Linked DNA regions of Homo sapiens. The protein of the gene in region 2 interacts with the protein of the main gene of each other region in a pairwise test. Each region holds a gene or a part of one and is shown on either strand. Other genes may lie near its edges.

The links.
Region 1: the proteins of SRPK1 (region 2) and DHX8 interact in binary tests that used the Homo sapiens proteins (3 or more experiments, as listed by UniProt).
Region 3: the proteins of SRPK1 (region 2) and YTHDC1 interact in binary tests that used the Homo sapiens proteins (3 or more experiments, as listed by UniProt).
Region 4: the proteins of SRPK1 (region 2) and LUC7L interact in binary tests that used the Homo sapiens proteins (3 or more experiments, as listed by UniProt).

Annotation. Positions count from the first base shown.
Region 1 is NC_000017.11:43,486,975-43,494,001, forward strand, and holds part of DHX8 (ATP-dependent RNA helicase DHX8), read left to right. Parts: intron 1-2,474; coding exon 2,475-2,560; intron 2,561-3,416; coding exon 3,417-3,489; intron 3,490-4,190; coding exon 4,191-4,276; intron 4,277-5,208; coding exon 5,209-5,318; exon of another isoform or gene 5,319-5,400; intron 5,401-5,687; exon of another isoform or gene 5,688-5,706; coding exon 5,707-6,066; intron 6,067-6,470; coding exon 6,471-6,615; intron 6,616-6,708; coding exon 6,709-6,912; intron 6,913-7,027.
Region 2 is NC_000006.12:35,869,072-35,876,098, reverse strand, and holds part of SRPK1 (SRSF protein kinase 1), read left to right. Parts: intron 1-1,759; coding exon 1,760-1,866; intron 1,867-3,370; coding exon 3,371-3,536; intron 3,537-5,139; coding exon 5,140-5,165; intron 5,166-5,604; coding exon 5,605-5,818; intron 5,819-6,197; coding exon 6,198-6,617; intron 6,618-6,988; coding exon 6,989-7,027. UniProt on the Homo sapiens protein: Serine/arginine-rich protein-specific kinase which specifically phosphorylates its substrates at serine residues located in regions rich in arginine/serine dipeptides, known as RS domains and is involved in the phosphorylation of SR splicing factors and the regulation of splicing.
Region 3 is NC_000004.12:68,312,081-68,319,107, reverse strand, and holds part of YTHDC1 (YTH domain-containing protein 1), read left to right. Parts: intron 1-245; coding exon 246-282; intron 283-354; coding exon of another isoform or gene 355-378; coding exon 379-418; intron 419-526; coding exon 527-589; intron 590-2,659; coding exon 2,660-2,794; intron 2,795-4,784; coding exon 4,785-5,009; 3' UTR 5,010-7,027. UniProt on the Homo sapiens protein: Regulator of alternative splicing that specifically recognizes and binds N6-methyladenosine (m6A)-containing RNAs.
Region 4 is NC_000016.10:219,436-226,462, reverse strand, and holds part of LUC7L (putative RNA-binding protein Luc7-like 1), read left to right. Parts: intron 1-5,715; coding exon 5,716-5,814; intron 5,815-7,027. UniProt on the Homo sapiens protein: May bind to RNA via its Arg/Ser-rich domain.

The DNA.
Region 1 (7,027 bases), on a different chromosome or scaffold from region 2:
GGGACTTAGTTCTCCCTCCACATTTCTTGAAAGAATGTAGCCTCTGAAGTTAGATTGCCTGGGTTTTATTCCTAGCTCCCCCCAGTTATTATTGGGTAGGTCAGTGTCTCAAACCGTCAGCTTCCTCATTGTAAAACATGACAATAATAGCACCTACTTATGAGGGTTGTTTTGGGGATCATGAAGTAACCCATAAAAAGCACTTAGCATAGTGCCTGGCACGTAGTAATGTTCAAAAAGTATTAACCATTGACATTATCGTTACTAACTTATTATGCATAAGATGTGTTCGTGTAGCCTGATGGCATTTGGCTTTCACTTTATCAGAAAGATAAAGGCACATTCCAGGATGGAAATTGTATGGTAGTACTACTTTATGAGTTAGTCATCTAGATCTTTCATGTTATTTATTCATTTACTTTTCTAGGATTAGCATTCAAATGAAAGCATTACAGTTTTTTTGTGGGTCTCATAGTATGAGGCTTATTATCTCAGTCTACTCCCGAGTAGCTAGGACTACAGATGCATACCACCACCCCCGGCTGATTTTTGTATTTTTTGTAGAGATGGTGTTTTGCCATGTTGCCCAGGCTGGTCTTTAACTCCTGGGCTCGAGCAATCTGCCCACCACAACCTCCCAAAGTGCTGGCATTACAGGCGTGAGCCACTGTCTGAAAGTAGCTTAATAAATAGCTCTAATATTAGAAGTTTCAAGAACTAGGCCGGGCACAGTGGCTCATGCCTGTAATCCCAGCACTTCGGGAGGCTGAGGCAGTAGGATTACCTGAGGTCAGGAGTTCAAGACCAGCCTGGCCAATGTGGCAAAACCCCGTCTCTACTAAAACTACAAAAATTAGCCAGGCGTGGTGGAGGGCACCTGTAATCCCAGCTACTTAGGAGGCTGAGACAAGAGAATTGCTTGAACCCGAGAGGCGGAGGTTGCAATGAGCCAAGATCGTACCACTGTACTCCAGCCTGAGAGACAGAGTGAGACTGTTAAAAAAAAATGAAAAAATAAAAAAAGTCCAGGTGCGGTGGCTCATGACTGTAATCCCAGAACTTTGGGAGGCCGAGGCAGGCAAATCACAAGGTCGTGGGTTCGAGACCAGCCTGGCCAATATGGTGAAATCCTGTCTGTACTAAAAATATAAAAATTAGCCGGTCATGGTGGCATGCGCCTGTAGCCCCAGCTACTTGGGAGGCTGAGGCAGAAGAATCGCTTAAACTCAGGGGGCAGAGGTGGCAGTGAGCCAAGATCCCGCCACTGCACTCCAGCCTGGGCGACAGAGCGAGACTCCGTCTCAAAAAAAAGAAAAAAAAAAGAAAAAAAGAAAGTTTCAAGAACTAGGCAGGTGTGCCGGGCACAGTGGCTTATGCCTGTAATCCCAGCACTTTGGGAAGCTGAGGCGGGTGGATCACAAGGTCAGGAGATCAAGACCATCCTGGCTAACATGGTGAAACCCTGTCTCTGCTAAAAATACAAAAAATTAGCCAGGCGTGGTGGTGGGCGCCTGTAGTCCCAGCTACTCGGGAGGCTGAGGCAGGAGAATGGCGTGAACCCGGGAGGTGGAGGTTGCAGTGAGCCGATATCGCACCGCTGCACTCCAGCCTGGGCGACAGAGCCAGACTCTGTCTTAAAAAAAAAAAAAAGAAGAACTAGGCAGGTTTGTGGAGAAAAATTTGGCAAAAAAGTCTTTCATCAATGTGGAGATTGCACCACCCAGCAGCTGCCTGGCCCTCATATACAGATTGGGTCTGTCCTTCTGTTGTGTGCCTCTGTGTGTCTACATGGGCTCATGCTTTTTATTGTCACCTTTACAGTCTAGTCTAGGTGGCAGCGTGCCCAGGTAGTGGTTTTGTGAGAAGAGGGTACCATGATGTGGGTCAAATAGGTCTTCCTAGTTTAAATGCACTCAAGGGCTACATTGAGCCATTTTGTAGTAATATCTTCCTTTCATTTGTATAAATTCTCTAGAATATGTGTGGATAATTTCAGCAGTCTAGATTTTCTCTCTTGTTTTCTTGTTTTGTTTTTTTTGTTTTTTTTTGAGACGGAGTCTCACTCTGTTGCCCAGGCTGGAGTGCAGTGGCGCAATGCCGGCTTACTGCAACCTCTGCCTCCCGGGTTCAAGTGATTCTCCTGCCTCAGTCTCCCAAGTAGCTGGGATTACAGGTGCCTGCCACCACACCCAGCTAATTTTTGTATTTTTAATAGAGACGGGGTTTCACTGTGTTAGCCAGGCTCATCTTGAACTCCTAACCTCAAGTGATCCGCCTGCCTTGGCCTCCCAGAGTGTTGGGATTACAGGCATGAGCCACCACACCTGGCCAGATTTTCTCTCTTTACCCTTACCAGATGGTGGTCTTTGTTTTTTATTACTGTTGGATAACCTAATTAGTTTTGTTTTCACCATACTTGAAACTGATTTCTTGTTCATGTCTCTTCTTTTCTGAATTCTGTTTCTTATTTGCAGCTGAATTTGTGATCAGTCTTGCTGAGAAAAATACCACCTTTGATACTTTTAAGGCTTCTCTCGTCAAAAATGGTGCAGAATTTACGGTATGTATATGTGGAGAAGATAATCTGTAGATATTAATGTTTTAATTTATGTTTGTTTGTTTGTTTTTTTTTTTGAGACAGAGTTTTGCTCTGTCGCCTGGGCTGGAGTGCAGTGGCGCCACCTCAGCTCACTGCAAGCTCCGCCTCCCGGGTTCACGCCATTCTCTTGCCTCAGTCTCCCAAGTAGCTGGGACTACAGGTGCCTGCCACCATGCCCGGCTAATTTTTTGTATTTTTAGTAGAGATGGGGTTTCACCGTGTTAGCCAGGATGGTCTCGATCTCCTGACCTCGTGATCCACCCGCCTCGGCCTTCCAAAGTGCTGGGATTACATAATTTATGTTTTAATGTCACTATTGATTTTAAATTTTGATAGGGTTTAATATAGGATTTTGATATAGGAAGGAGACAATTTTATACATATCAATTAAATAAGCCATTAAGTGTGTAATGTTTTCATGCCATTAAGTAGTGATGATTTAACCAGATTTTCTGTGATACCTCTAGGAAAACAGGGCAGGATTTTCATCATTAAGTCTTTGTAGGTATTTACATTCTTGTTCTGTGAGTCAGGAAGTTGGAAACAAGTTTTGGGGGTAGTTCTAAACCTTGGGAAATAAAATGGTTGCAGGGAGCCTAATAACTTTTCTCCCCAAAGAGTCCTAAATATCGGCTTTCTCTGAAGCTATTATACTAGGTTCATGCTACACCAGGTTGACACACTATGTTTCATGTATTCCAATTAGCTAAATTCAAGTGCGTAACCACCCTTCCCTACAGGACATTCTTTGCCTTTTAAGTGTATTTAAGCACTGATATGGGAGCTGACAATTTTCGTTCTATGTTTCTTTTCAAAGGATTCTCTTATTAGTAACTTGCTGCGTCTCATACAAACCATGCGGCCTCCAGCGAAGCCTTCCACTAGCAAAGGTAAGCAGAGCTTCCAGCTGAGCTTAGCTTCTAGAATGGTGTAGGTTTTGAACATCCTGTAAATTGCATTTGTTTTCCTCTCAGCAGTTGCTGAGCAAGTAAATGTTCCAGTAAGATTTTTCAAATGGGCTGGGCCTAGCGGCTCACTGCTGGAATCCCAGCACTTTGGGAGGCCAAGGTGGGAGTATCACTTGAGCCCAGGAGTTTTAGACCAGCCTGGGCAACATAGAGAGACCTCATCTCTACAAAAAAATAAAAAAATTAGCCAGGCATGATGGCGTGCCTCCGTAGTTCCAGCTACTTGGGAGGCTAAGGAAGGAGTGTTGCTTGAGTCCAAAAGGGTGAAGCTGCAGTGAGCCATAGTTGCACCAATGTACTTTAGCCTGAGTGACAGAGGTTTTTTTCCCCGTTTCAAGGGGAAAAAAAATTTCAAACGACTTAAGACAAAATAAAAAAGATAAGACATAACCCAATGAGTATTGCTACACTCCTCTTTCTGCTACATTTCGAGATAGTTTGTGATCAATGTATTTAGAAAATTAAATTACATTTATAGTAACAGGTATGATTAATATATAGCAAAATGCCATGTTCTGTTTCAGTTTGATACAAATCTATTGTTGAAGTTATTTTGTTAATCATTAATAATATTAAATATATATCTCTTTTTTTAACCCCTTCATGCTCTTTAATGAAACAAGATCCAGTTGTTAAACCTAAAACAGAAAAAGAAAAGCTGAAGGAACTCTTCCCAGTCCTTTGCCAACCGGACAACCCTTCTGTTCGGGTACTGATACCATTTTAAGAGTGTCTACTATAAATATATATTCTCAACCCCTTTTCTTTGTCTCATAGTAATTTTATTAATTTTAAGTTTGCCTTTGTTGTAACTTATTTTTAAGAATGAAAGTGTTTGATCACTCCCTGAGCATGTACTATGTATTGAATTTGTTAAGGGGTTCTGAGAATGATATTCAAGGGAAATGAGATTGGGAATTTGGGGAAGTAGTGATTAGGAATATGAAATAAGGTTCTGGAACAGATGCCTAAGGTGTGAAATTAGATTTTTTTTTTTTGCTCTGTTACTTGTTAAAGGTCTAATTTTTAAAGCATTTTGATTTTTAAATTTCATTTTAATAAATATTTATTGAGTACTTACTGTATGCCAAACACTGTTCTAAGTACCTGGATAACAGCAGTGAACAGAACAGACAAGAGTTTCAGCCTTTGGAGATTATATCCTAATTTTGGGGTAGGGAGCAGGAAATAAACATGTAAACATTCTGGTGGGGAGGAGATAGGCAATAAACAAACAAATAGGTATGTAACATAGCAGATAGCAATAAGGGCTATTTAAAAAAATAAAGCTGGAGTGGGGGTAGGGAGGAAGAGTGCAGAGGGAGAGTTGCTTTTTAAAATTTTTAACACCTGTTTTCTATTAATATAATCATCACTTGCATTCTTTCATGGCAGGGATGATTAATATCTAACTGCCTTTCATAGAATTCTATTAAGGACAGAGGGGATTTGTCAAATGTAGCAGTAATTCTCAAGAGCCTTTTTTCCATTTCTTCTGCATCTATCCTGAATCAAGTTTGAAATCTCTGCCCCTCTTCTATTTCCCTCACATAGTGATTAGTGATTTATAGATGTACCTGAGGTACATACAGATTCTTGAGTAGTTTTTTTTCCTAACTTTGCCGGCCTCTACCTCTGCAGACCATGTTGGATGAAGATGATGTGAAAGTTGCTGTGGATGTCCTGAAAGAACTGGAAGCTTTAATGCCCAGCGCAGCAGGCCAGGAGAAGCAAAGAGATGCTGAACACCGGTTTGTCCTTAGTGTCCTGTCCTTTGGAAGTTTAGGGTACTGTGACAGTTGAATATTATGGACCAGCCAAGCAAAATTTTGGGCAAGTTTACAGAATCTGGACTGGTCATATATCATATTGTTGGATCTGTTTTCATTGCTTCCTGCTAAGTGTATGTAGCAAATGCTAGGTTGTTCAGAATATAGAAGTCAGGGTTGAAAGAGGCTGAATATGTTTGTGGCTCAATTCTTTATTGGCTTATAGGGATGTCGTAGTTATTGAAACTCTAATTCAGTTCAAAACCTAGTGGGTACCTACCATGTGCATGGCACTGTACTGGGTGCTTGGGGATGCGAAGATGAAATCGGATTGGTTTCTTTTTTAAACAGGTGCTTATTGATTTGTTAGGGACAGGACAAAGAAGAAGAAGCGGAGTCGAAGCCGAGATCGAAACCGAGATCGAGACAGAGATAGGGAACGAAACCGAGATAGAGACCACAAGCGGAGACACCGATCCCGCTCTCGATCACGTTCCAGGACCCGGGAGAGGAATAAAGTGAAGTCTAGATATCGGTCCAGGAGCAGGAGTCAGAGTCCCCCCAAAGACCGGAAGGACCGGGACAAATATGGAGAGCGGAATCTGGATAGATGGCGGGATAAGCATGTGGACCGCCCTCCTCCAGAAGAGCCCACCATTGGTGACATTTATAATGGCAAAGTTACCAGCATCATGCAGTTTGGTTGCTTTGTGCAGCTGGAAGGACTAAGGTAATGACTGGTGCTCTTTTGTTCACACCAGTGATGGGCAGAATTTCTTTTATCACTGAGGATGTTCACATTCTAAAAAGTTACTTTGATTAATGACACTTTAGTCAAATCAGCCATACATGGTTCTTAGAAATTGACTCTTTTGAAATGTTACAGAGCCATTTATTCCTTTCTCTGTCTTCAGGAGATCTGTCCTTTGCTTGTTGGGACAGATAGAATTTGCTTCCCCACCCCATGTCTCCCCATGAGGAGAGTGTTAATACTATTTTATTGTTTGACCACCTTCATGGTACTTTTCTCTTGAGTTTAAGACCATTTTCTTTTGTTAGTTCCAGTAAGGGTAGAAATTGGTTGGGGGAAAAATATTTTTTGGCATGTTCCAGATGTGTCTGGCTCTCCCTCAGGAAGCGGTGGGAAGGCCTGGTGCACATCTCTGAGCTCCGGCGGGAGGGTCGTGTGGCCAATGTAGCTGATGTCGTGAGCAAAGGCCAGAGGGTCAAAGTCAAAGTGCTGTCCTTCACTGGGACCAAGACCAGCCTGAGCATGAAGGTAGGTGAGATGGTCAGCCTGTTCTTACATGTGATGGCCAAGGGAATGGAAGAGGACAGCAAGTGAGACAGCTCCCTTGTTTTTGTGCCTTAGGATGTGGATCAAGAGACTGGAGAAGATCTAAACCCAAATAGACGGCGAAATCTTGTCGGGGAGACCAATGAGGAGACCTCAATGCGGAATCCTGATAGACCCACTCACTTGTCCCTTGTCAGTGCTCCTGAAGTAGAGGACGACTCACTGGAACGCAAGCGCCTCACCCGAATCTCTGACCCAGAGAAGTGGGAGATCAAACAGGTTGGGGCCTTTAGTTTTCATGACCAGATAGTCATTCAGCATGTAGCATGGTGCTTAGGGGTGTGCCCTGGAGCACGATGGCCTGGGATAACTTTTGGCCACTGTATTAGTCTGT
Region 2 (7,027 bases):
TTTTTTTTTTTTTAATTTAAGAATCCAGGCTAGTTGTTTTATGCCACCTTAGTTTGGATTTGTTTGATTGTTTCCTCATGATTAAATTCAGGTTAACCGTGTTTGTCAAGCATAGTACATGGATTATTGCATTAGAATATGCATTCGAATGCATATTAGTATATTGCATTAGAAGGCACATGGTGTGAATTTGTGCTTATCATTGGTGGTAGTAAGTTTGATCACTTGGTTAAGGCAGTGCCTTCCAGATTTCCCAGTTGTAAAGGTACTTTGTTCTTTTTGTAATTAATAAGCAATCTGTGGAATGATATTTTGACACTGTGACAATCCTTTTTCCCGACAGTCTTTCACATAGTTGTTTTAGTATTCACTGATTCTTACCTGAATCAGTAATAGTATACTATAGTGATTGTAAAAATGGTGATTTTCTATTTCTGTAATCCCTTATGTATTTATTATTTGGCTTTCTTCTCTAAAGAAGATGTTTCTCTTCCTCCTGCCTCCACACTTACTTTCAGATCAGTGTGGACTTGTTCTGTTTTTAATTCATATATTAACTCATAATTTTATCCTTTATAGTGGTCTGGCCGGGCGCAGTGGCTCACGCTTGTAATCCCAGCACTTTGGGAGGCCAAGGCAGGTAGATTATGAGGTCAGGAGTTCAAGACCAGCCTGGCCAATATGGTGAAACCCCATCTGTACTAAAAATACAAAAATTAGCCCAGCGTGGTGGTACACACCTGTAGTGCCGAGAGGCAGAGGTTGCAGTGAGCTGAGATAGTGCCACTGCACTCCAGCCTGGGCAACAGAGCCAAGACTCTGTCTCAAAAAAAAAAAAAAAAAAGAAGTCTCCATGTTGGCTGGTGACATCCTTTTCAAGATGGTTCCTGTTTCTTCCTGACAGGTTCTTTTATTTGTTAGAACAGCAAGGTGTTCCAAGTTTACCCTGTTATTTTTCCTACCTTGGATTTGGCCATTTTTCCAAGGAGCTCAGGCTTTCCTTTAATGGAGAATGTTAAAGTCTGAGCACTAGACCATTACTATATATGTATGTCTTAACTTGCATGTAGAAGCCAGTGGGGGTGGAAGACATCAAGATACTACTAAAATCTCTGTAGTGCCCTGCACAATTTTAGACTCAGAGTATTCCTGCTGTGTGGTGTCATCAGGTTGTTCATACATAAGGACAACACATGGTGGCACTGGAATCAAGATTAGTTTTGTAAAATACAGAGCATTAAGCAAGTTTCCTATTTAAAAAAAAATGTTGGCATTTACGTTTTTGAGGTTTAAGTCTTTCTTGTACATTCATCTCTTCTATAGTTAAGGAATAATTTGTTTTTCCTTGCTTTGAAGCTGTGAGAGTGGGAATTTTTACCCTGGACACCAATTTTGATATTAGGGAAGAAACTAATTTACCTGAAGCTAATCAACAGCTTGAGGCTTGAGCCTACTGCTTTCTTTCACTATTTGCATATGTAGGTTTCACTTTTTCTTTTACCATTGAGTATTTTAATGTACATAATAATATTGATGAAGCCAGCCGCCCACAATTTAATGTTTCATGAATGCTTTCATTGACTATAGCATTAGACTTTGAAATTTTAGAATATTAACAGCTACATATTTATTCATTCAAGCTCTGTAACTTTTTATACTGAAAGAAAATAATACATAACATTTAATAGGGTGGAATTCACAGCTTGTCTTGCCGTGTTCTTCTTTTGTGCCGTTTTTTCCCTCCTTAATGAATTCCTAGATATCTGCATGGTATTTGAAGTTTTGGGGCATCATCTGCTCAAGTGGATCATCAAATCCAATTATCAGGGGCTTCCACTGCCTTGTGTCAAAAAAATTATTCAGCAAGTATGTATCTTGAATCAGCAAGTATCTTAGTCTTGACTATGTAGTGATTTTTTAATATTCTTGAAGTGTCAGGACTTTATTTTTTCCAATAGAATTTTTGTTTTAAGGCCGGGTGTGGTGGCTCATTCCTGTAATCCCAGCACTTTGGGAGGCCGAGGCGGGCAGATCACGAGGTCAGGAGATCAAGACCATCCTGGCTAACATGGTGAAACCTCCTCTCTACTCAAAATACAAAAAGTTAGCCGGGTGTCTTGGCAGGCACCTGTAGTCCCAAGCTACTCGGGAGGCTGAGGCAGGAGAATGGCGTGAACCCAGGAGGCGGAGCTTGCGGTGAGCCGAGATCACACCACTGCACTCCAGCCTGGGCGACAGAGCGAGACTCCGTCTCAAAAAAAAAAAAGAATTTTTGTTTTAAAATTCTTTGTTTTAAAAAGTAAGTTATTGGCTGGGCGCGGTGGCTCACGCCTGTAATCCCAGCACTTTGGGAGGCCGAGGCGGGCAGATCACCTGAGGTCAGGAGCTCGAGACCAGCCTGGCCAACAGTGCGAAACCCCGTCTCTACTAAAAATACAAAAATTAGCCGGGTGTGGTGGTAAGCGCCTATAATCCCAGCTACTCGGCAGGCTGAGGCAGGAGAATCGCTTGAACCCGGGAGGCGGAGGTTGCAGTGAGCTGAGATCGCGCCACCGCGCTCCAGCCTGGGCGACAGAGCAAGACTCCATCTCAAAAAAAAAAAAAAAGTTAATTGCTAAAATTAAATATTTCATTCAACCTTTAGAATTTATTGTGCTTATTCTCTTTTTAAATGTTTTAGCATAACCATTTTCCCCCAGGTTTGCCTCCTATAATAATTAGAAAGGGAAGCTGAGGTTCCTGACTTGGGAACATTGGAGCCCTTATCCAGAAGTTCTGGTTGCAAATAGTAATTTTACATGAATAGATAATTGCTATGTCAGATTATTGCCATCTCTTTATACAGCATGATTCATAGGCATTTTCTAATTTTCTAAAGAGCCTTCAATATACAGTATAGATTTTACCATCAGGAAAATATTAATACTTCAAGGTGCAAAAATTTGTTTGGATTATATGTCCTGGAAAGAGCTCCAAACTGGGCAGCAAGAGACCTCAATTCTTCCTCAGTGAGGAAATTTGAATTAAAGATATCTAAATGTCTGTCAGCACCTACATTACAACACTTAGAGGGTGTGTGTGTGTTGAAGTTTATTCTCAGTCTTTGCATTGTACATAGTTGAAGAATATCTCCAAATAGAATCAGCTTTGTAAAACATTGAAGAATTTTTTATTGTAAATAATTTCTTGCCTTTTTCATAGTTTAATCTTTCTGAGAAAGTTTATTTGTGCTTTTTTAAAAGGTGCTTTTATTCTCTATAGAAAACGCTATCATATCTTTTTTTTTTTTTTAATGTCATGTTATAATCTCTTACTTCTCCAGAAAGCCTGTATTTTGTGTTTGCAAGTCTGCCACTCTATTTCCATTCAGGTGTTACAGGGTCTTGATTATTTACATACCAAGTGCCGTATCATCCACACTGACATTAAACCAGAGAACATCTTATTGTCAGTGAATGAGCAGTACATTCGGAGGCTGGCTGCAGAAGCAACAGAATGGCAGCGATCTGGAGCTCCTCCGCCTTCCGGATCTGCAGGTGTATTTTCTTTTAGGGACTTCGCTATCATTAGAAGTTAAAAAGAAATTTCTATTTTTATTCTGTTACCAGGGAATTAAACACCACTCAATCCATTTCAACAATAACATATTTAAGAAACATTATCAGCTTCCAAGAGACATTCTCACTGTTACTTCCATAGGGGAAGGAGAAAACTAGATATTGTGTCTTTGTGTTGTATGTTATAAAAGCTGGTGTGTATTGTTTAAAAATATTTTTTCTTATGAGTTGATGATTTTTGAAGTGTTTACCTCTAACTGTGATCACACATGCTCATTTATAGGACTGGTAGTCTGTAGAGGGACAAGATAACATTGCTATTAATAGTTTAGGTTTAAACACTGGAGTAGACAGACTTGGTTTGAATTTGGGCTTCATCCTAGACTGAGAAACCTTAGCTGAGTTATTTTACTTTATTTTCCCTCAACTGCGAATTATTGGGATTAAATGGTAAAGCAGTTAGTAGTGTGCCACACAATATTATATACCAAATAAATTGCGGGACCAGGCACAGTGGCTCATGCCTGTAACGCAACACTTTGGGAGGTTGAGGTGGGTGGATGATTTGGGCCCAGAAGTTTGAGACCAGCCTAGGCAACACAGTAAGACCCTGTCTCTACAAAAATTAAAAAAATTAGCCAGGCATAGTGATGCGTGCCTGTAGTCCATTTACTCAGGAGGCTGGGGCAGGATGATTGCTTGAGCCTAGGAAGTCAAGGCTGCCACGAGTTGTGATAGTACCACTGCACTCGAGCATAGGCAACAAAGTGAGACCCTGTCTAAGACATAAAATTAAATAAATAAATAAAGGCTGCTTTATGATTTTTTTTCTTTTGAGATACAGATTTTAGTTTTAGTAGTGTGTCATTTTTTAGGAACTTGCTTGATCCTCAAGTTGAGTTATTAGTTATACACTTCTTTAAAAAGGAAGACTAAAGAAGGGGGAAATGGGGAGTTGGTTGTTAAATGGATGTAGTTTCTGTTTTACAAGATGAAAACATTCTACAGATCCTGTTATACAACAGTGTGAATAGTGTTAAAACCACTGAATGTACACTTATCTAGAGTATAAATTTTTATTATGTGTTTTTTGTTAACCACAGTTATTATACTAATATTTTAAAAAGAGGAAGACTGAAGATCCTACCTTCCAGCTAAGCTACACTGTTATCCATGACATGCTGTAGAGCAAATTACTATAGCTCTTGATGTCACCTAGACTCCCCTTTTAAAACTGACAGATTCTGGGTAGCATTTGAGGTGAAGAGGTTGTTGCTTGTCCCATTCTATTTTAAGCAGTGCATGGGAATGGAAAATAGGTGATTTTTAGCAACTTTAGTTTACCTGGGGAGGAAGAATTTTATTTATCCCTTTTTTTTAAGTTTGGCAATTTCTATTCATTATTTTCTTTAAAAATGGTAATAATATAGCTTCTACTTAAGTCATTTAAAAACAATAGTTTTCTCTGCAATGTAGACTACATAAGAAAGACTTTTCATTCTGGTAGAGTGTTTTATCTGAGCCTTAGTTTATATTGCCTGATGAATGCCAGAATTCTTACTTGGTTTTCTTTTCTTTTCAGTCAGTACTGCTCCCCAGCCTAAACCAGTAAGTATAAGGTGTTTTTATATTTAATTTTGATCTATGGACTATGGGCATGGGTTCTTCTGTTGTGGATGGTAACAGTTTGTTTCAAGTTTGAGAACCAAAAGGAAAAAAAATTCCTGCGCTTCTATAATTTTCTCCAGTAAATTCCCATGCACCTTCATCACATTTGTACTGGTGAGGCCTCTAAAAAATTCGAGTTTGTCTGAATGTAAACCAACCCCACGGACTGCTCAGAAGACCACACTTTGTTATTTATTCTGTTTTTATTTGGGTTTATAAGAGTATCCCGCATCTTTTAATTTAATGAAAGACTTAAGTGCTATGTTAGGGAAAGATTTGTGAAATTTAATTAGGAAGTAATTAAAGTTAACAACTATCTCCAACTGGGGGTAATTAATTAGCCACCTGAAGGCTTTATCTGTTTGTAATCTCCGCCCAGGCTGACAAAATGTCAAAGAATAAGAAGAAGAAATTGAAGAAGAAGCAGAAGCGCCAGGCAGAATTACTAGAGAAGCGAATGCAGGAAATTGAGGAAATGGAGAAAGAGTCGGGCCCTGGGCAAAAAAGACCAAACAAGCAAGAAGAATCAGAGAGTCCTGTTGAAAGACCCTTGAAAGAGAACCCACCTAATAAAATGACCCAAGAAAAACTTGGTATAAATAGAACATCACGAAAATTACTGTACAACACACTTTAACGTTAATTTATCATTGCTATATAATACAGTGGTTTCATACATACAACACATCTCTGGGGGTATCTTTATAAGAATATGGATCTTGTCATAAATGTTAGGCAGGTAATATTTAAATGTAATTTGTAACTTTTCTCAGGAAATGGAACATAGATTTCATTTAACAATTGGGTAAAAGTAAGATCTTGGCCCTTCCGGAAATAGGTTTTAGATGTTTAGTCATGTTTTTATGTCACTCAGTATAAGTTCTAGAAAATGTTTTAATCTTGTGAGAAATGTTTCTGTTCTTTCACTCACACACATATGCATATATCTTTTTTTGTTCGTTTGTTCCTTAGAAGAGTCAAGTACCATTGGCCAGGATCAAACGCTTATGGAACGTGATACAGAGGGTGGTGCAGCAGAAATTAATTGCAATGGAGTGATTGAAGTCATTAATTATACTCAGAACAGTAATAATGAAACATTGAGACATAAAGAGGATCTACATAATGCTAATGACTGTGATGTCCAAAATTTGAATCAGGAATCTAGTTTCCTAAGCTCCCAAAATGGAGACAGCAGCACATCTCAAGAAACAGACTCTTGTACACCTATAACATCTGAGGTGTCAGACACCATGGTGTGCCAGTCTTCCTCAACTGTAGGTCAGTCATTCAGTGAACAACACATTAGCCAACTTCAAGAAAGCATTCGGGCAGAGATACCCTGTGAAGATGAACAAGAGCAAGAACATAACGGACCACTGGACAACAAAGGTACCTATGCAGCTATACTTCCTCAACACTCCTTCCCTGCACAACACATTCACAGATTTCTAGACTAAAAGTATGATTGTTTTTGTAACTATAGCTTTACAACAGGTGTGTCTAAGTTACGTTTAAATTGTAATCTGTAGCTAACTTTATCCATCATGTACTGAGTACACAGCACTTCATTTGTTGCTGTGAGGGCAGAGGTTTTTAATTCTGGAAACTCAAGGCGTTGCTGTGCTCTTTTTGTCTCAGAAAATGTAAGTTGTCACTTGGGTATTGCTGACTGTATTACTCTTACCTTGGAGAGCTTTATTACTCATTGAGTATTTCTCTGTTCATTGAACAGTCTTATTGATGATGCCTGTTGTCTGTAGGAAAATCCACGGCTGGAAATTTTCTTGTTAATCCCCTTG
Region 3 (7,027 bases), on a different chromosome or scaffold from region 2:
GAACATAGAAGATACCTATCTGAAAGCTTCTCTAGCAGTTTACAATTCTATGATATCATTAGTTATTTCCTAGATTATCATGTAATCTGAGAAGAAAATTTGAAAATGGGATAATACAGTAGTAGCATCACTTAAAGTACATATTTCATGGAAAGAATTGAAACGAGTGGTAAGGAAGGTTTAATTATAATGCCATAAAAGAAAAATATAAATTTGATTTACTAAAATGCTTGATGTTTGAACAGGGTATTTAAAGGATCCACGATACCAGGAAGTGGACAGGTAAGTCGGGTTCACTCTTGCCTAGTTTTGAATTACATTCTTGGAACTAGTTTATGAATTACCTGAATTTAGTTTCACAAATCTTATTCCCAACAGACGATTTTCAGGAGTTCGCCGAGATGTGTTTTTAAATGGGGTAAGCATTTCATTTTATCTATTTAATGTGGATAAAATCAGGCTCTGATTTATTTTGCAGTTCTGTGATAATTTTTAATTATATTGACATTATCATCTTTTATTTTAGTCCTACAATGATTATGTGAGGGAATTTCATAACATGGGACCACCACCACCTTGGCAAGGAATGGTTTGTATTATTCTATTTTTATAAGTTACATAACTTAATTTGCAGTTCTAGTATTTCAGGTGCTTACTCGGAATATGATTGTTACAGTTACTCATTAAAGAGACTTAAACTGGCCAGGCGCCGTGGCTCACACCTGCAGTCCCAGCACTTTGGGAGGCTGAGGCGGCTAGATCACCTGAGGTGAAGAGTTCGAGACCAGCCTGGCCAACACGGTGAAACTGAAACCTTGTCTCTACTAAAAATACAAAAAACATTAGCTGGGTGTGGTGGCGTGTGCCTGTACTCCCAGCTACTCGGGGAGGCTGAGGCAGGAGAATTGCTTCAACCCAGGAGGCAGAGGTTACAGTGAGCCGAGATTGCGCCACTGCACTCCAGCCTGGGCAACAGAGGGAGACTCCATCTCAAAAAGACTTAAAATACAGATTTTTGATGATAAATAATTGTATGCTGTCTTTCAAACTAAAGACTAAAAGCTCATTTGTGTTAATAGTACAGGCTTGAGAACTGTAATAGTGTATTATGGTAGTAATTAGTAGTGCAAAGTCCGCTTGGGTTCAGATATATTTCTTTTTCTTCCCAACTCTGTGACTTTGGGTTAATTTCTTAATACAACTCTTAGTTTTCCTCATCTGTAAAATTCCATGGGCATTCACTGATGCTTTGTCTTATCAAATATAATATTTAGTACTTACTCTGTGCAAGGCACTGTGCTTGTTCTGATTATATCATGGTGAATGAAATTGACATCATGACTGTCCTGGTATAGCTTAAAATTTAATGTAGTAGTGTCATTTTCATTGTCAAGATAAATTTACAAAGTACATGTTAAGTTTAGCATAGTGCCTGATCTAATACTCACTAAATTTTCTGTGTAAAATAAGATTAATTAAACCCTGATTATTCCTGCTTTTTAATTATTTCCTTTAAGAAAACTGAATTGTCTTAGAGTATATTTTAAGATATTGAAGATAGCTGAAGCATTAATTTTCAAGAAATAAAAACCTGGAAGTTGAAGTAGCTTCTACTGTTTTCTTACATTTTAATTTATGTCTTTTTTTAAATGCAATATGTTATATGGCCTCTTCATCTGACTTTTGTTTCACTTTTAAGGTATACAGTTTTATACTATTATATGCAGATGATTATGAGACTTTTCCCCTTTAGATTCTAGGAAATTTTAAAAATTTAATAATATATGATCTTGATAGTAACTATGAAAGTAATCTTTAATTTACCCTTTATTCATTTTTTAAATGGCATTTAAAAGTTAATTTGCTCCTGGACTTTTTTTTTGAGAGACAGGGTCTCATTCGGTCTCCCAGGCTGGAATGCAGTGGTGTGATGATAGCTCTGTGCAGCCTTGAACTCCTGGGCACAAGTGGTCCTGCTGCCTCAGCTTCCTGAGTAGGTGGGACTACAGGCACATGCCACTGTGCCTGGCTAATTTTTTTATAGAGACAAGGTCTCACTCTGTTACCCAAGCTGGTCTCCAACTCCTGGCTTAAGGGATTCTTTTCCCTCAGCCTCCCAAAGCACTGGGATATGGGCGTGAGCCACCACACCAGGCCTGTTGATGTTTCTAAGAACAGATACATACAAAGTGGTTAACCAGTTTACCAACTGCAGAACTAGGATGCCTGATGCCGTATGCCTGCTTCACCACTTTAACAGTAGTGTGACTATAAGCAGGTTACTTAACTCCTTGTTGCTTCAGTTTTCCCTTTTGTAAACTGGGAACAATAGTATCTATCTCATAAGGTTGCTGTGAGAATTAAATGAGACTAGTAAAGTGCTTAGAACAATGCCTGGCTCACAGTAAGCACCATGTAAGTGTTTGCTATTTCCATTGTTATTTATATGATAGGAGTAGAAAAGCATAAACATGTTAAATCTTAGAAGATGTGTAATTTTCGACAAAAAGCATATTTTGAAACACCTTAATGCCATCAAAGTAAATGTCTAGTACAGATTCACTTGTTTGGGATTGGTGTTTTGGATGAAGGGTTCTAAGAATCGCTTGTTTACAAGGGTGTTGGTAGATTCTTAATGTAAATGGTTTTCCTTTTTTAGCCCCCTTACCCAGGAATGGAACAACCTCCACACCATCCTTACTATCAGCACCATGCTCCACCTCCTCAAGCTCATCCCCCTTACTCAGGACATCATCCAGTACCACATGAAGCAAGATACAGAGATAAACGAGTAGTAAGTGCACAAGGAGGCAAAGGTGTGAGGGAACTACTTAGAATTCTGTAGGTAACTTAAATATGGGGAGACCAGAGTATGATGATTGACGGACCATTGCATATTCTTACTGCAGACTGTTTTGGAATAATTGTTTGTTTTTATTAAAAATGCCTGATTATGCCCCTTTGGATTATATAGATAGAATATATTTCTTTTACTGATCAAATCACAAACTGCTTAAGGCAAACGCCTACAAATAGAACTCCTTTTAGGTAGTACCTAGGCTATGTTCTTTCCATATTGAGATCTTAATTATGCTATGTAATTAATATTGTTAATAGATATTTCTGAACTTTTTGTGTATTCTTACTCAATTTTTCTAGGATAGATCGTGTATATTAAGTTAGCTGATAAGCTGTAATCTCATTTAGTCATTTGTTTTTATTTCTACCAAATGTTAAAGCTAGTAACTGATAAATTGTTTTACCTCTGGTTATTGTGATGTTAGCAAAGAATAACCAGATGTTATGATATGTAGCAGACATGTCCTTTATTCATTGATTCTGTTAATTATTTGATAAGATTGATGTGAAAGCTTTTTTTGATGGCTTCAAAACAGGACCAGTGAAAAAAAGACTCTAGTTTTAGTTTGAGTTTTCTGGGTTTTTAACTAGTGGGGCTGAGTTTATTAAATGCTTCCCCACCCCCCCCAATAGTACTTTTATTTATAAAGCAGAATTGTCTTCTGGCAAGTGTTGGAAGCATAATTCATATGCATATAAGTTTGATAGCCTTAGAAAGGTAGTTTTGTTGTTAAACTAAGTAGGATATGCAAGTTAGAATTTTTTTCCACTCCCTACTTAGGTTGATGAGTCTGTATGGGGCCAAATAAACATCTTTTTATTTTCCCACTTAAGATGAAGAGTGGGCCTATTTGTGAGAATCAGAGCAGCTTTCTAGCCTATCTTTGAGACATTTTTTTGTGTTGTCAGTAATTTCCTTATAAAGATAGTAATTTTCTCTAAATCAAATCTTATCATGACTTCTAACATTCTGTAAAATAATTTGAGAGTACTAGTTAACTAATTCACAAACTTTAAATTAGTAGTTTATTTTCAGTTAAGCACACAAGAAAGAAATATACAGTCTATCTATAATGAAATCTTAGTTGACTAGATGGGTTGTGGTGTCTTAAAAATTCCCATAACTGATCACATGGCTTTTAAAATAGGAAGTCTGAGATTTTTTTGTTTTCCTCAACTATATCCTTTTTAACAAGTTCTATTTTATGGATCTTTATGTAGTGATTTTTTGGTTAGTATACATATTCTCTACTTACATAATCACATATATAAAAGGTAATGTGGGACTGTGTTTTCAAATCTTATTTCAGCTAAGTTTTGAGAGAAGACCAAAATCAGTAAGGTAAGCTGAGAACTAAGAGTAGAAAGTTTAAACTAGAGCAGGGGCCAAGTTTAGGAGCAGCCACAACTTTTCTTGCACATCAACTTAGTTGTAACAATTTAGTTTGAAAGAAAATCTGGAACATAATACTCAGTTTGTAAAATTGAAGTTGGTAGAATTGGAGGAAAAATGTAGAGCTAGCCTGTGCCAGAAAAACATTGATGACATTTAGCATAATTGGCAGTATATATGGATAATAGTTGAAGGTCATCACTAGTTAATATCTTTGGCCTAAATCTTACTGAAGGGATCAGATGGAAAAGTCATTAAAGTTAAGTGGAAAACTGCATAAAGAGATTTGAATAATCTGTTGTAGATGTCTAATGAGGCATCATCCTTTTTCTAAACCATGTCAGCATATTACCTTCTGTGAATTAATTTATTATTGCATTTCTTTGGATTGTTCTCTCCGCCGATTATAATACAGAGACTTTTCTTTTTTTATATTTTAAAATTGTTTATATAAATTTTTTTTTCAAATCAGGGATCCACTTAACACTATTTGCCTTTTTGACATACCTAACACATTTCTTTCCTTTTCTAGCATGATTATGATATGAGGGTGGATGATTTCCTTCGTCGCACACAAGCTGTTGTCAGTGGCCGGAGAAGTAGACCCCGTGAAAGAGACCGGGAACGAGAGCGAGACCGCCCTAGAGATAACAGACGAGACAGAGAGCGAGATAGAGGACGTGATAGAGAAAGAGAAAGAGAGCGATTATGTGATCGAGACAGAGACCGAGGGGAGAGAGGTCGATATAGAAGATAATGGGCTTTTGGAAGCACTGATTGTTTAAAGATACAAAAAATCTTGTATTTTTTTTTTGTGTGTGTTTACAAGTAGTAAATTTATTTTCAGCTGTCTGCCTATGAAGTTCATTGTGTAGAAGGATTTATTATGACCCCCTTTGTTCCAAGCATGCAGTATCATAAGAACTGGAAAAACTCAAATCCGCCAAAAATCCACAGCTGACAGTTGAATTGACACTTTTATTGGGGCAGAATGGAACAGTCCAAGAATGTAGATACTGATTCTTTCTCCATAAATGTTCTTATAGTGTGTTCATCCTAGAGTTATTTTTTTGTTTGTTTTTTTCCTTTTTGGATCTTGATTGATAACTGCCATGATATTTTGCTTTGATGTGTTTCTACATGTAGTTGCACACGGTTCAGTAAAAATAATGCTGCTATCGAGTATGCAAATATTGAAGTATGATGGTTTGACTGTATGGCAGTGTTGTAGCAGCCTCTTGTTTTTTTCCCCATTGCCTCTTTTTTTAAAAAACTTATAAAGTCACTTTTTATTTTTCCTCAGTCTTCAATGACGAGAGCAATATTAAGAAGACATTGCTATCTAATTTTTAATCTTTTTAAATGAAAAATTCCTATGTTCAGTAGCGTGGTTGATGCTATTGTTTAGCCTTCCCCTCCAAATTGTATACATTGGCTTGGAATGTTCACAACTTGCGTGCGTGGCAGCGGAAGACGATTCCCATATTCTACATTGCTACTGTTTTGTATAAAATAAATTGGTAAAGATTGACGGTTATCTTTTGTATCTTTTTCTTATCCAATTGCAGGTTTGTTTTATTATGCAATAATGGACATAAAAGCATGCTTTTTGTTCAGGAATTTTAGGAACCCCATTTGCTTTTTTTGAGGCACACTTTAGCAGAAATGATTGACCTAGGCCTGTTGCATTAAAAGCTTACTTCTATTTCTAACATAAGATACACAGAGTTATGTTAATAATTTGGTTAAGTATTTATACACCTGATAACATTTTGAGTCTACTCTGATCACAGAATCGTTTATTTAGGTTTTCTATTTGTTGTTTTAGTCTTCTGTAAGTGAACGACTTTGTACATGCTTTCTACTTTACTTCATAAATGGACTTTTAACCCTCTTGTATTAGTTCTGTATTTTAAGTTAACTGTCCAGTTCTCCCAGTGGTAACCAACTATAACATAGAAATAGAGCCGCTCAAGAAAACAGTTTATGAAATAATTTTTTTGAATTTTTTCTTGAGTTACACCTGGAGTTTTGGCCTTTGGAATTTGGCCTTTATAAACATTAGGAATATTTGAATGTTTGATTTTTTTATAGTATCAACAGTTGTACTGTGTACCAGATCACATAGTACAGTTTTACATTTAATCTATATTGGCCTGAAAAGAACAACACAGGCACTTTACTCTTAAAGGATATAATAAACTATAGTTATACTGCATTCATATTCATACCAGCATGTAGTATCTTTCCCTGCATTCACAGAAGTTTTATTTACAATGACAAAACTAAAGCCTGAGGATTTGTTTTAAATCTGCATTGTGGTAGAGAGGAAAAAGTACTTTTAAGGAAACCTGGGTTCTAGTTTTGTCATTGTCTTTAATTAAACCGGTTAGTGATACATGGTAAGTCACTTCATTGGCATTTTGTGTATTCATCAGTAAGCTAGACAAGATGATAGCTACAGTTTAAGAATTTCTGTAACCATTATACAAAACTGGTAGGTAATATTAAAGGTATTTTCCTGAAATAATAGGAATAAATACTGAGCACTTTGTATGCAATAGAGACTTTGTGCTTTTATATACAGACTCATTTAAATGGGCTCAGAGAGGCTAGTAAACTTGCCCAAGATTAGAAAGGTAGTAATTGATGGGCCAAGATTTTACCCATGTTTTTATTTGGTGTTTCTAAACCACCTCATCACTTTTGAAAAAACAGTATATAAATTAATAAATGTTTTGGAGATGGAGTCTGTCGCCCAGGTGGAGGGCAGTG
Region 4 (7,027 bases), on a different chromosome or scaffold from region 2:
GCTTTGTATAATGTGCATTTATTCGAAGTAAGAATTTGAAAAGACTGAATAGTGGAAGGTTATCTGTGGTGATTACGCCACTGAGAGAAAAGGAGTCCTGTAGAGACCACCCCCATTTTAAGGTTTCACAGCTACCTCACGGAGGTTAAAAACTATCCTCTCATTTTAAGGATGAAATGTGCATATGTTAAAGGAAGTTTTCTTCATGATGAATCATTGCTTATATTAGGGAGGAGCACCTTCTGGAAAACCGCTCAGATGTATTAAAACTTCTCAAGCTGAGTTTTCTGACAGCAAATGCGAAATGAATGCCAAACCTTGTGCCTCTGTTCCTTGGGGTGTTGTCTGCTGTTTGGCCTGGGATGGGAAAACGTTACTGTTTGATGCAGATTGTTGTGTGTACCGAGGTCAATACAGATTAATGATTTCAACTCGTCAAAGGAAGTTTCACTGTAGGGTATTTTCATAGGATGCACAACTTGGAATTCTTGATAAACCCATAGTGAAGGAAGTCAGAGGGAGCAGATAGATGTGCACTCTCGGGAAGATTTCAACCATGTTTTCCTTGGCCAGACCCTGTGTAGCATAGCTGCAGAATACTGGTGAGAAAAATAATCTGAGTGAGAGTATTTCTTTTCTTTTCTTTTCTTTTCTTTTTTTTTTTGAGACAGAATTTCAGGCTGGGTGCGGTGGCTCACGCCTGTAATCCCAGTACTTTGGGAGGCCGAGGCGGGTGGATCACCTGAGGTTGGGAGTTGGCGACCAGCCTGATCAACATAGATAAACCCTGTCTCTATTAAAATACAAAATTAGCTGGGTGTGGTGGCGCATGCCTGTAATCCCAGCTACTCAGGAGACTGAGGCAGGAGAGTCACTTGAACCCGCGAGGCAGAGGTTGTGGTGAGCCGAGATCGAGCCATTGCACTCCAGCCTGGGCAACAAGAGCAAAACTCTGTCTCAAAAAAAAAAAAAAAAAGAGACGGAGTTTCGCTCTTGTTGCCCAGGCTGGAGTGCAGTGATGTGATCGTGGCTCACCGCAACCTCTGCCTCCCAGGTTCAAGCCATTCTCTTGCCTCAGCCTCCCGAGTAGCTGGGATTACAGGCATGCACCACCTCGCCCGGCTAACTTTTGTATTTTCAGTAGAGACGGGGTTTCACCATGTTGACCAGGCTAGTCTGGAGCTCCTGACCTCGTGATCCACCCACCTTGGCCTCCCAAAGTGCTGAGATTACAGGCATGAGACACTGCGCCCGGCCAGAACTGTGTTTTCTGAAGGTTCCGGAAACTTTGGTGCCCTTCCTGGTCAGTAGTGTTAGACCAGTAGAAGGTACAGAAGAGAACACAGGTTGTGGAGTAAAAAACGCCTGACACACTGGATTTAGCAGCCATGTGGAATATTGTGGAAGGACTTAATGAATGTGATATTTCAGCTCTGCTTGATGTTGGGCATCCAGGGGAATGGCCAGTAGTATTTTTCCCTGCCTCCTTGGCAAAGCTGAAAAGCTACATCCAAAGAGGGTAATCATAGAACCCAAGCCTATCCTCAGTGTGCTTAAGCAGGGACTCTTTTGGGAGCTCTCACATTGAAAAGTAAGTGCTGAATTTTGCTTCATGTGAGGTTTTTTTTTTTCAGACGGAGTCTCACTCTGTTGCCTAGGCTGGAGTGCATGGTGCTATCTCTGCTCACTGCAACCTCTGTCTCCTGGGTTCAAGCAACTCTCCTGCCTCAGCCTCCTGAGTAGCTGGGATTATAGGCGCCCGCCACCACACCTGGCTAATTTTTTTTGTATTTTTAGTAGAGATGGGGTTTCATCATGTTGGCCAGGCTGGTCTCAAACTCCTGACTTCAGGTGATCCACCCACCTCTGCCTCCCAAAGTGCTGGGATTACAGGCATGAGCCACCGCGCCTGGCCTCATGAGGTTTTCTTTTTTTTTTATTTTGAGACTGAGTTTCGCTCTTGTTGCCCAGGCTGGAATGTAATGGCTCCATCTCAGCTCACTGCAAGCTCCGCCTCCCGGGCTCAAGCAATTCTCCTGCCTCAGCCTCCCGAGTAGCTGGGATTACAAACGTGCGCTACCACACCCGGCTAATTTTTGTATTTTTAGTAGAGACGGGGTTTCACCACGTTGGCCAGGCTGGTCACGAACTTCTGACCTAAGGTGATCCGCCCTCCTCGGCCTCCCAAAGTGCTGGGATTATAGGCATGAGCCACCGCGCTCGGCCTCATGAGGTTTTCTAATGTCATATCTTTCTTGACAGTTGAGTTTTTTATAATGGAAATCAATTTGTACTTCATACTTTGTTGTACTTCAGGTTTTAGGGTCTGCTTCCTTTGGTAGTAGCTTTTTCTTTGAACAACAAAGCCTTGATTAGTTTAAAGCATTTTTTCTGATAGCTGCCATTCATTTTTCAGCTACAATGCTTAGTTTGTGGAAACTATATATTTTAAAGGACAACACCCACAACTTAGAAGAGTGAATGAGGCCAGGTGCGGTGGCTCATACCTGTAATCCCAGCACTTCGGGAGGAGGAGGAGGAGGCGGGTGGATCACTTGAGGTCAGGAGTTTGAGACCAGCCTGGCCAACATGATGAAAACCTGTCTCTACTAAAAATACAAAAATATTAGCCGGGCGTGGTGGCGTGCCCCTGTAGTCCCAGCTATTCGGGAGGCTGAGGCAGGAGGATTACTTGAATCTGGGAGGCAGAGGTTGCAGTGAGCTGAGATCGTGCCACTGCACTCCAGCCTGGGCGACAGAGTGAGACTCCGCCTCAAAAAAAAAAAAGAAAAAACAGAGTGAATGAGGTAAAAGTTGTCAGATTTTCAGTGACAGTGATTTTAAGTGCAAATTTGGCTTCTAGAACCACTATTGTCCTATCTCTAAGTCTTCTATGTAACCGACCATAACGTGAGTCCCATCTGACTTCAGAGTAAGAATGATAAAGGAGAAAAGTCAATCTTTCGTCAAAATAAACATCACCATACAAGGCAGACCCGTTGTCTGCCGCCTCCATGTTAGCTTTATTATTGGTGATACTGAAGGATGTTTTGTTAGTGAGTATGCCACGTGCTTTCTTTTTTTATCTATTATTTTATTTTATTTTATTTTTTTGAGACGGAGTCTCGCTCTGTCGCTCAGGCTGGAGTGCAGTGGTGCGATCTTGACTCACTGCAAGCTCTGCCTCTCTGGTTCATGCCATTCTCCTTCCTCAGCCTCCTGAGTAGCTGGGACTACAGGCGCCCAGCTAATTTTTTTTGTATTTTTAGTAGAGAAGGGGTTTCACTGTGTTGGCCAGGATGGTCTTGATCTCCTGACCTCGTGATCCGCCCGCCTCGGCCTCCCAAAGTGCTGGGATTACAGGAGTGAGCCACCGTGCCCAGCCTAGCATGCTACATGCTTTCTATGAGACTGCATCCCAAGAGTCAGACATGCAAGCCTCTCTATTTTTTTCCCCCTCAAGATGGATTAAAGGTTTAAAGCCTTCCTTTCTTTTTTTTTTTTTTTTTTTAAAAGACGGGGTCTCTTTAAAAAGCTGGGCGAGGTGGCTCACGCTCGTAATCCCAGCACTTTGAGAGGCCAAGGTGGGTGGATCACCTGAGGTCAGCAGTTCGAGACCAGCCTGACCAACATGGAGAAACCCCATCTCTACTGAAAATACAAAATTAGCTGGGCGTGGTGGCACATGTCTGTAATTCCAGCTCCTTGGGAGGCTGAGGCAGGAGAATCGCTTGAACCTGGGAGGCGGAGGTTGCGGTGAGCCGAGATTGCACTACAGTCTGGGCAACAAGAGCGAAACTCCATCTCAAAAAAAAAAAAAAATTAAAAAGACAGGGGTCTCTGTTGCTCAGACTGGAGTGCAGTGGCTCAGTCACAGCTCACTTGAAGCCTTGACCTCCTAGGCTCAAGCGATCTCTTCCCCTCAGCCTCCCAAGTGGCTGGGACTACAGGCACATACCACCACACCCAGCTAATTGTTAATTTTTTCATAGAGACAGGGTCTTGCTATGTTGCCCAGGCTGGTCTCAAACTCCTGGGCTCAAGTGATCCTCCCATCTTGCCCTCCCAAAGGTGTTGGGATTACAGACATGTGCCACTGCAACTGGTACTAACGTCTTTTTTTTTTTTTTTTTCTGGTTATGTAGACATGTTCTTTTGTCCTACTGGGGGTGTCTCCTAGTTGGGATGTTGGGTTTTGTTAACATGCACTCTATAACTTGACACGATGATCCTCAGCACACAAACCTCCCTGTTGCTGTGTAGATGGCGAGAGGCAGAAGGTGTCTGCATAGAGTCCTATACTTAGGATTTAGATTAAAATCATACACTGTTTTCTAATTGTACTGCATATGGTACACATAATAGCACATCATGCTGTTCTTACTGACAACATAAATCATTTTGTTTTAGTAATGGAACGTTTTGCTTGTCAAATGGAGGAACTGAGTGGGACAATTATCTGTCCTCACTTAGATGTCCAGGGTCATTTCCCAGGCTAAGAAAATGTGTAGAGCATGTATTTGGCTACGAACCAGCCTGTTCTCCTTTATTCCCTTTGATACACAATCAGCTACACAAAGCCAAGTGTTAGGTTGTGATGTAATTGCCAAAATCTAACTTCTGTCCGCTCTTTCCTCTTCCTCTGTCTCTGCATCTTAAGCATCGAGCATCTCAAGTAGTCAAGATTGCAAGACAATGCCTAGAAATTTGTTGCAGTGAGACTGTTTTCTGGCCCTTTCCTTTTTTTTTTCCCCTTTTCTGAGACAGAGTCTCACTTTATCACCCAGGCTGGAGTGCAGTGGCACAGTCTTGGCTCACTGCAAACTCCACCTCCTGGGTTCAAGCGATTCTTGTGTCTCAGCTCCCCAGGTAGCTGGGATTACAGGTGCCCTGCCACCACACCTGGCTAATTTTTGTAGTTTTAGTGGAGACTGGGTTTTATCATGTTGGGCAGGCTGGCCTTGAACTCCTGACCTCAAGTGATCCGCCTGCCTCACCCTCCCAAAGTGCTGGGATTACAGGCGTGAGCCACCACGCCCAGCCCTGGCCGTTTCCTATCCCTGCCACCCCACATGCTGCCATTTACTGAATCCTTGGACTGATGCATAAATAAAACTGGGCCAGGCACCGTGGCTCACACCTGTAATGCCAGCTCTTTGGGAGGCCAAGGTGGGTGTATCACTTGAGGTCAGAGGTTCAAGACCAGCCTGGCCAACGTGGCGAAACCCTGTCCCTACTGAAAATACAAAAAAAAAAAAAAAAAAAAAAAAAAAAAATTAGCTGGGTGTGGTATCACGTGCCTGTAATCCCAGCTACTTGGGAGAATGAGGCAGGAGAATTGCCTGAACCCCGGAGGCAGAGGTTACAGTAAGCTGAGGTCGCGCCACTGTACTCCAGCCTGGGTGACAGGTGAGACTCCTTAAAAACTGGCAAAAGCCAATTAATGTAGTTGTGATGATTACAGTCCAATTATCTCTGGGTCTAAAATAGAAACTTTACACTATTAAATGCATCAGTTTCAAGTATCACGTAGTCACGATGGTAAAAGTGAAATGAGGCTTCTCAGCCATATCTCCTTTCTTAATTTTCTTATTGCAGTGTCAGTGTTCCAAAAGTGATCATTTCTGTTGGTGACAGTTGAAACACCAAGTCGCGTTGTGTGCTTTCTACAGTAGGTAGGCACTGAGGTCTGCATTTTCTGTTTCTTTCCCACAGCGCATGGATTTAGGAGAATGTACCAAAATCCACGACTTGGCCCTCCGAGCAGATTATGAGATTGCAAGTAAAGAAAGAGACCTGTTTTTTGAATTAGATGTAAGTTTTATTTAATGTTGATTTATTCCTACTGCGAAGAACCCAATATTGAACTAACAAGAAAAATGTAACATACGTAAGTTATGAAGCAAAATAATAAGGTAGTTGCTTGTTATCCTGCCACTCAAGCTCAGAGCTAGAATACAGCCAGTACTGTTTATATGTTGTGTCCAGCGTCCTGTCAGTGTCCTAAATGATAATATGTGTTATCTCATTTTGTTGCTTTTAAAAATTTTAATTACATTTTTATGAGTCCTTGAACAGTGTTTATTTTTGCTTAGTTTTGAATGGTTTCATAGTGTAGAGTCTTTAAAATTAGATTTTTTTGGTTCAGTATCATGTTTCTGTTTGCCCAGGTTGTTGCATATAGTTTTCATTGCTGCTTGAATAATTCTCAAACGATCTTTGCTTTATTCATAGACATTTAGATTGATTCTAGTTTTGCTACTGCAGACAATATGAATATTTTTGCATAACTTCCTTGTCACGTGGATAAGGATTTATTTTGGGTATATTCCTAGGAGAGGGATTGCTGGTTTATAGGAGATACCCGTATTTATCCTCGCAAGACAATTTTGTAATGTTGTCTTCTTGTTTCTATTTGGTAAAGTCCCATAGCAGTGTCTGCACGCTCACCAACACTTTGTATTATCAGACTGTTTAATTTTTGCAGTTTAGTGGTTGTAAAATGGCATTTCTTTCTGATCTCAATTTGCATTTTTTTAGTACTCAGTAGTTGTGTTATTTTATCTACATTAGTAAATTCTTTTTTTTTTTTTGAGACGGAGTTTCACTCTTGTTGCTCAGGCTGGAGAGCAGTAGTGCGATCTTGGCTCACTGCAACCTACTCCTCCCAGGTTCAAGCAATTCTGCCTCAGCCTCCTGAGGAGCTGGGAATACAGGCATGAGCCGCCATGCCCGGCTGATTTTGTATTTTTAGTAGAGATGGTGTTTCTCCATGTTGATCAGGCTGGTCTCGAACTCTCAACGTCAGGTGATCCGCCCGCCTCAGCCTCCCAAAGTGCTGGGATTACAGGTTGAGCCACCGTGCCTAGCTTCTTTTTCTTTTTGATACAGAGTTTCACTCTGTTGCCCAGGCTGGAGTGCAGCAGCATGATTATAGCTGACTGTAAGTGAATTGCTGGGCTCAGGTGATCCTTCTTCCACAGTCTCCTAAATAGCTAGTACTACAGATGCACACGACCATGTCTGG